Linked DNA regions of Homo sapiens: region 1 is linked to region 2. The links come from fine-mapping of genetic effects on gene expression. A gene starts in region 2. The other region holds a variant in brackets. All regions are shown on one strand. Distances are between the middles of the regions. Region 1 overlaps ELF5 (E74 like ETS transcription factor 5). Region 2 holds the start of CAT (catalase).

What was found. PIP is the estimated chance that this variant, and not a neighbour inherited with it, causes the effect.
Region 1: its variant is the best candidate, but not a certain one, in a credible set for the expression of CAT in lung (TOPMed, PIP 0.72).

Annotation. Positions count from the first base shown.
Region 1 is chr11:34,481,325-34,485,725 of GRCh38, forward strand. ELF5 (E74 like ETS transcription factor 5) reads right to left here. Exons shown (of 7, transcript NM_001422.4): 5 at 1,107-1,175. Among named protein-coding and RNA genes, the nearest start is that of ELF5, 30 kb to the right of the region's middle. The variant C/T (reference allele first, on the strand shown) is at 1,967.
Region 2 is chr11:34,436,435-34,440,835 of GRCh38, forward strand. CAT (catalase) reads left to right here and starts at 2,500. Exons shown (of 13, transcript NM_001752.4): 1 at 2,500-2,645. The coding sequence starts at 2,580. RefSeq lists enhancers at 2,313-2,362, 2,533-2,832.

The sequences.
Region 1 (4,401 bases), 45 kb after region 2:
GTTTTTTTAATTTTAAGAGAAGAGATGTACAATTTCTCACTAGGTCATGAGAATTGCTGCTTTGTGGAATATTTCCCATTGTTATGACTGATTGCTCTACCTGGAAACTTACTGAGCTGTGACATGTCTGTGTCTCCCATCGAAGCAATTGTGAAACACACATTCAGAGACACCCAATTTACATGACTGGCAACACTGTGACTCACAGATGTTCTATGGAACTACAGTTTAACTTTTATGGAATGAGTGAAATGACAGTCAAATGATCTTTTCATTCTTCTTTCTGACAGGCAGCATGGTTGTACTGATTCCACAGCCACAACTGTCTGGGTGGACTGATCCTGCAAATTCGTTTTTCATGAAAGGCTGGTATTTCTCTTATTCTATGATATGGTGGTTAAGACCAGCTCTGGAGTCCCATTATCTGAGTCTGGGTCCTGAATTCACCTCTTCCTACCTTTATAACCATAAACTTTTAGGGTTGCTTCATCTATAAAATGGGATAATAAAGAGTACCTGTCTCCTAGGACAGGTTAGAGGATTTAATGATTTAATACATACCAAGTGGTTAGAATTATGCCCAGCACATAGCAATTGTTTTCTACACACACATTTGTGAAATTACAAGCTTGACACTGCTCTGGGCCGATCTCTTAGTGCTGGGGAAGCTAATAGGATTGCCAATTCCCGGTGTTTTCTTTGTTATCCTCCTCTGAGATGAAGCCACAGTGGACCCAGGATTGGATCTGGCGCCAGATGGTGGAGCCAGAACTTGAACCCAGGGGGTTTTCATTCCAAAGCTAATGTTCACAACTACGATCATGTCTTTCATAGTAGGTGTTCAATAGACATTTAATGGATAATTATTAGCTATGATTTGTTTAGCGTTTGCTATTGTCAGATGCTTAATCTCACCCACTCGTATGAGAAGAAATCAATCTGACTTTGATAATACGTATAAAAGCAATCACTGATTTCTTTACTACCTTCCTTGGGGAGTAACTGGTCCAACTCAAACATTTAGTTTCAAAGCTTATTAAAGTAGATGACTTTGTCTGAGGAATGGTTTTAAGAAATTAGAATGAAAACTGGCATCCTGCACTTACTTGTTCTACTATGACTGTGACAGTCTTGACTTTTGATGCCACTTGTTTTCAAGCAGTTGGAATCAGCATCTGAAATAGAATAATTTATAGCAGTGGAAAGGGATATAGAGGCCACATTCAGACCTCAAGTCATACCCAAATGAGCAAATACTAATTGAATGCCTTTGTAGTAGAAGACACCACATTAGGCACTTTGGGGGTGATTACTAGGTGGCAGGTGTCAAGATGCTTTAAGATGTGCCTTTGAGGAGCACTTGTATTCAATCTCACCCCACCCTGATGAGAATAAATAAATCTGGTTTTGATCGAGGTCCGTGCAGGGCCTTCCTAGGAGGCCATGGTAAGGACTTGGGACTTTATATCAAAGTGTAGAGCAAAGATCCTCAATTTAAGAAGATCTCTCTTGCTCCTGTGTGGAGAACAGACTGGAAGAGACACAAGTAGAAGCAAAGAGACTAGAGCTTATGAAGGGTAGAAAGCAAGACGTTAACTCCGTGCTGATTTAACTAATAACTCAGGCTGTGAGTCACAACCTGAGACACCAGGACAAGCATTGCCAGAGTAGTATATGAGTTTTTAAAATGGTGGCACCAGATCTGCCCCTCCAGCTCACACTCGTCTCCACCGCTTCTCTTAGCCCCCTGCTTGCTTTGCCCCAGCCACCCTGGCTTCAGGCTCTCCAGAAACGTGCAGGCACATTCCACATCAGGGACTTCGCAGTTGCTCTTCCACTTGTCCTGCACGTTGTTCCCTTGGATACTTGTGGTGCACGCCCTCATCTCAATCCTGTTTCAAAATCACCTTCCAGTGAGGTCTCCTCTGACCACTCAAGTTGGGTCTGCACATCCTCCCCACTGCTC[C/T]GCATTTTACATAGAATATTCGAGCATATTCTATGGTGTATTTATTCATGAAGTTCACTGTCTGTCTGTGCACACGAGGGGGCAGGGATTTGTGTTTCCCAACATAACCCTGCAGCACCTAGCACACTGCCGGGCATATAGTAGGTGCTCAGTATCATCGAGCAGCCACTGTGCTATGCTATAGTAACTGTACTGCACCACACTATACTAACTATACTGTTCTATACCACTCCATACTGTACTATGCTAACTATATTGTACTATACCACACCATACTGTACTATACTAACTATACTGTACTATACCACACCATACTGTACTATATTATACTAACTATCCTGTGCTGTACATACTATGCTGTACTAACTATACTGTACTGTAGCATACTATACCAACTATACTGTACTGTACCATGCTATATTAACTATGCTATACTGTACTATACTATACTACACCAACTACATTATACTGCACTATACCATACTAACTATACTGACTGTACTGTAGTATACCATGACAACTATACTATACTATATCATACTGCACTGTTCTGTACTGCACTATACTAACTATTCTATTACTGTACTGTACTAACACCATACTACAGTGTACTATACTATACTAACTGTACTGTACTGTACCAACTATACTATATTGCATTACACTGTAGTATACTATATTTACTGTACCACACTATACTGTACTATACTATATTAACTGTATTGTACTGTACTAACTATATTGTATTATACTGTAGTATACTATACTAACTATACTGTACTGTGCTATACTATACTGTACTGTATTATACTAACTATACTGCACTGTACCAACTATACTATATTGTATTATACTATAGTATACTATACTAACTATACTGTACTGTGCTATACTATACTGTACTGTATTATACTAACTATACTGCACTGTACCAACTACACTATATTGTATTATACTGTAGCATACTATACTAATCATACCACACTATACTGTAATAACTGTACTATACTATACTAACTATACTGTACCATATATTGTATTCTACTGTACATACTGTACTATATGAACTAGACTGCACTAACTATACTCTACTGTACTATACTATACTAACTATACTGCACTATACTATACTAACTATACTGCACTGTACTGTAGTATACTAACTATACTGTACTGTGCTACACTATACTAACTATACTATACTATACTATACTATACTATACTATACTATACTATATTATACTGTACAACTATCCCTGCTGCATCGTCTAGTATGTACACTGTCACTGCTGAATGAAGGAAGGGCAGGAATGACATCCTGTGCCCCACACTGCTGCTTAGGGTGACCTCTCTCAGTGCCACTGGGTCATGTCACCTCGCCAGCTGAACATCCTGCAGTGGTTCCCCATTTCTTCCAGGATGAAGGCTGCACATTAGATAGGCCTTTCACAGACTGACCCCCATCCAGATCTCCAGTCTTATCTCTTTCTGCTTCCCAACTTTTTCCCTTCCCTTAGGTCAAATGGTTCCATTGAGGCAAGGCTTTCTTCTGCCTCAGGACCTTTGCACAGACTCCCCACTCTCCACTTCTACCCAGCGGACCTCTCACAAGACCTCTTCAGGAAGCCTTCTCTGAACTGACCCTCTGGGTTAGACCCCTTATGAGCCCCATAGAGAGCACCTGTGAGTTCCTTGGTATCACAACACTGGGCCTACCTTACTGGAAAGATCCATCTCTTTTTCTCCTCCACTATCAGCTGATATTTACGGAGCACTTACTAAATGCCAAGTGCTTGGTAAGGGCTTCACATAGAGTATCTCATTTCAAACTTATAACAACCCTGGGTGATACTATTATGATTTTCATTTTATTGAGGAGGGATTGGAAGTCCAGAGAGCTTAAGAATCTTTTCCAGATGGTGGAACCAGAGAGTTCTCATTGCAAAGCTAATGTTCATAACTACTACTTTATCATGTCTTTCACAGCAGGTGTTCAATAGACATTTAATGAACCATTATTAGCTAAGATTTGTTGAGCATTTGCTATTGTCAGATGCTCACTCAACCTTCCCCACCCTTATGAGATATGTCTATTACTACCCCCAGATCGATCTGTTGTTTTGATTTAATCTTTTAGGAGAAGAGAAAACAAATGGAGTCATAAACAAAGGTGAATTATTAAGTGTGAATAGACAACAAGCGTTCACTGAAATGCCAAAATGGCAAGAAGTGGGAGGAAAAACATTGTCCTTTTGATTTTAATGATTTCTCCCATGTTTTGGATGAAGGGGATCTGGCTTGGTAGGAGGAACACAGTACAGATCAGCATGAGAGGGGTTTATGAGGCTGATGGGAATTTCTTCCGTGGGTCTTGCCGAGATAACCCTGTTCTGTCTGTTCCTAGTTCTGCAGTGATGGCTTTGAAGGTACTCATT
Region 2 (4,401 bases):
TAGCTGAGTACTCAAATGTTTTTCTTGAACATTTGTTACATGGTCTACTTTGCAAGCTTGGTTTCAAATTTGTTGATACCAGGATTAATAACAGTATGTCTTGTGCCAGTATATTTTATTTTCATTGAGTTCTGAAAATTGACTTCAGAGAACAGCATTTTTAAAATAACATTTTTATTTATATCAATAAAAATACCCATGAATTCATATGACTAAAATATTAAAACCTAGAACCCAATTTGTTTACCTAACCAATCACTTGCAATTACCTTTAGGTAATTGTATTGGTTTGGTTTCAAGTATTTTTTAACTAGGGCTGATTTTAAGAAGTGTTTTCATTTAAGCTGTAATTATAGTCGATAGAACTTCCACCTAATATGTGACTTTTTTTAATTTTTAATTTTTTTGAGATGAAGCCTCACTCTGTCACCCAGGCTGGAGTGCAGTGGCACAATCTTGGCTCACTGCAACCTCCGCCTCTTGGGTTCAAGTGATTCTCTCGCCTCAGCCACCTGAGTAGCTGAGACTACAGGCGTGTGCCACCACGCCCAGCTAATTTTTGTATTTTTAGCAGAGGTGGGGTTTTACCATGTTGGCCAGACTGGTCTCGAACTTCTGGCCACAAGTGATCCGCCTGCCTCGGCCTCCCAAGGTGCTGGGATTACAGGCGTGAGCCCCCGCACCCAGCCTCCTATGTAACATTATAAATTTATTGTCATTACTTGTAAGCCTGCCCTTTATTTTAAAATACAAGATATGACAAGATCAGAAACCAGTCTTGTTTCTCCATTTCTTTCTCTAGAAATAATTCTTTAGGAATTCAAATCCATAGTAACAAAAACAAAGGAAAAAAAAACATGCTTTTTTTTATATAATGAATAAAGGTTAAGAAATGACTCCAGGTCTCTTATTTATTTTGTTGATATTTGTGTTGGTTAGTTAAGAAGATGATTTGCTCGATTATTTCAACATTTATTTATTCAACAAACTGTGGACTTTGGAGATGAACAGCTGAAGCTAGAATCCTGACTATCCCTTAATAGCTGTGTAACTTTGGGCAAGTTATTTAACCTCCCTATACCTCTGTTTCCTAATCTGTAAAATGAAGATAATATTAGTATCTAACTCATAGGGTTGTTGGGAGGGTTAACTAAGCAAATATACAAAAAGCTGAGAATAGTCCCTGGTATATAGTAAGTGCTCAATAAATTATGGATGGGAGGATCCTGACCCACATGGAGTTTACAGTCTTGGCAGTATGGATCGGGCAGGTAGAAAAAGACACCAAATTACACAGCCAACAGCATCTTTATAATTGTTTTTAATATAGGAAAAGTATAGGGTGCTAAAGATCAATTTGTGGCTTTCTTTTCCAATGAACTGCTAAAGTTCCACTTTTATGCCCAAGATTCTTATCATACTTTTGTAAGATCAAGAACAACATGTGAAGTTTCCACTATTATATATCCACCCATTATATGTAGTTGTACTGGAAAAAATTAAAAGCTGATAACTTTTAATTTGAAGATGATGGTATATACTATGTATATATATTAAGGTGCTTAAAGATAAATCCTAGCACCTGAGGAGGTGTAGAAATCATTCAAACTCTTTGATTACAATGACAAACTAGTCAGTAACTTACTAAATATTGTACTATATATTACTAAGTATTTTACTCTTCAACATAGCTTTTTAAAGACACAAAGCTTTTCAAAATTCCTGCTTACCTGGGGGTAAAATTTGGGGAAGCAGATTTCTCCAGTGTTTAAAGAAGCCAATTTGGCAGTGTACCAGAGTTGAATACATTTTTCCCATCACAAGGGAATACATTTTTCCCATCTAAGTTAAGTTGTTTTTCTCTGGTAAAGGAGGAAATCAACACCCATCTGTACGGAGATAAACGTTTCAGAGTGTTTTTATATTAAATAATTAGTATACTAGTCTAGTAAGTGATAATCCACGAATAAGTTAAGAAGAGCTAAGAAAGAAAAAGAAAAGCATCCATCCATCCTTTGGTTGCAAATAATACTTACATTAGCGTATGGCAAAATTTAATTTTGTACAGAGTAATTTAACCCAGGATTGCTGACTTTTTAAGAGCTGAGAAAGCATAGCTATGGAGCGCAAGGCCCCACCCAGCAGGGTCTAAGTATTCCGTCTGCAAAACTGGCAGGCCACCAACGGCCGCGTCCCAGGGCGGCCTGAAGGATGCTGATAACCGGGAGCCCCGCCCTGGGTTCGGCTATCCCGGGCACCCCGGGCCGGCGGGGCGAGGCTCTCCAATTGCTGGGCCAGAGCGGGACCCTTCCTTTCCGCACCCTCCTGGGTATCTCCGGTCTTCAGGCCTCCTTCGGAGAGCCCTGCTCCGAGCCCATTGGGCTTCCAATCTTGGCCTGCCTAGCGCCGAGCAGCCAATCAGAAGGCAGTCCTCCCGAGGGGGCGGGACGAGGGGGTGGTGCTGATTGGCTGAGCCTGAAGTCGCCACGGACTCGGGGCAACAGGCAGATTTGCCTGCTGAGGGTGGAGACCCACGAGCCGAGGCCTCCTGCAGTGTTCTGCACAGCAAACCGCACGCTATGGCTGACAGCCGGGATCCCGCCAGCGACCAGATGCAGCACTGGAAGGAGCAGCGGGCCGCGCAGGTACACTCTGTGCTCCCCGAGCGGGCCCGAAGGTCCGTTTAGAAAGCGGGGGCGTCGGCAAGTAAAGGCCCGGCTTCCCCCGGGGCGGCGCTTGGAGGGACTGTACCGCGGCTCACTGGGCAGGGGGGATCCCCTTCGGTGCAGACGGACTTTTACATTCGCCGAAGCAGGGGAGGGGGGTCCGGGTAGTGGGGCGCGGGACTGCAGGCTTTGTTGTCCGCGACAGGCTCGGGTGGTTGCTTCAGAATTTTGCACTTTTGCCAACTGGGACAGAGGTCGCAGCTTGAGGACAGATTGAGGGCTCATGGGGAAAGAGGCAGAGAGCTGCAGCTGCAAGGAAGTCAGTGAGGGGAGAAGTGGAACCAGGCTCTAATGGTGCCCTTCTTGAAATACTGTTTACACGCTTTCATAGTTGTGGGGTCCCAGCAGGGCAGGGATTGTGTTTTACAATCTTGAGGTCTCCAGCACCAGTCACAGTGACTGGTACGTACTATGCACATTATTAAACGACTAAATAAAAGAACTTTTACATTCATTGTCTCATTTGCACTTCAAAATGTCAAGCCTAGCATTTTAGAGCTGGGGGGTGACATTAGGGATTGATTAATGCGTTTATTCTATTCTTTGAGCACCTGTAGGTGCTAGGCACTGTTCGGGGCAAGGTGTACAAATTCCAGTGCGGCAAGAACAACACCCTTGAGAAGCTGAGAGTCTAGTCTGGGAGACGAGACACATAAACAGATGATTACACTCCAGCGTGGTGAGGGCTCTAATAGAGGTTATCTGTAGAATGTAGAGGGAGTGACCAGGTGGGCCGGACAAAGCAGGTGACATTTGAACAGGAATTTTTTTAAATGAGTAGGATTTTAACTTGGTGGTGGGGGAGGCATTCCTGGCCTGTGCCCACGGCTGCAGAGTCTCAGAGGGCATCTATGAGGAGGTTGGATTAGATGAGACCACATCTGGTCTGAGTCTACTGTTGGCAGATTGGCCCAGGGAGTCTAAAGGTCTTGCCCTGTTCCCTGGCTGCTGGTTAATGGTAGACAGAGGACTGCAGCCCTGTTTTCCCTATTCTGCCTAGTGCTCTTGCTCAAAACTCAGGTTCGTGAACTGGGGTATTAATGCTAAGTGCTCATGGATTGCTTTAATGGTTCCCTGTTTGGGAAAAGGCTGCCATTCTCCTCCAAGGGCCTGGAAAATCTCCCCTCTTGGCCCTGTTCTTTGTTATATACCATTAGGTTGGTTCATGAGCTCTTAAAGTAAACCAGAGAGAGGTAGAGTCTTAGTAAAGGATGTGCCACTACTTAGTGGCAGAGACAAGGTTAGAATTCAGCTTCTTGGACCCAAGACTCTTTCCTTACCCAGTGGGTGCAAATCCTGGTTCACACTGAAGTTTTCATGAATACTCGGTGAATTGAGAAAAGTGTGGACAAAGTAGTGAGATTTTTACAAAACAAAATATTTTCTTTTTCTTTTTCTTTTCTTTTCTTTTTTTTTTTTTGAGACGGAGTCTTGCTCTGTTGCCCAGGCTGGAGTGCAGTGGTATGATCTCCACTCACTGCAAACTCCGCCTCCCGGATTCAAGCAATTCTCCTGCCTCAGCCTCCCGAGTAGCTGGGATTACAGGTGTCCACCACCACACCCAGCTAATTTTTGTATTTTTAGTAGAGATGGGGTTTCACCATGTTGGCCAGGCTGGACTGGAACTCCTGACCTCAGGAGATCTGCCCGCCTTGGCCTCCCAAAGTACCGAGAT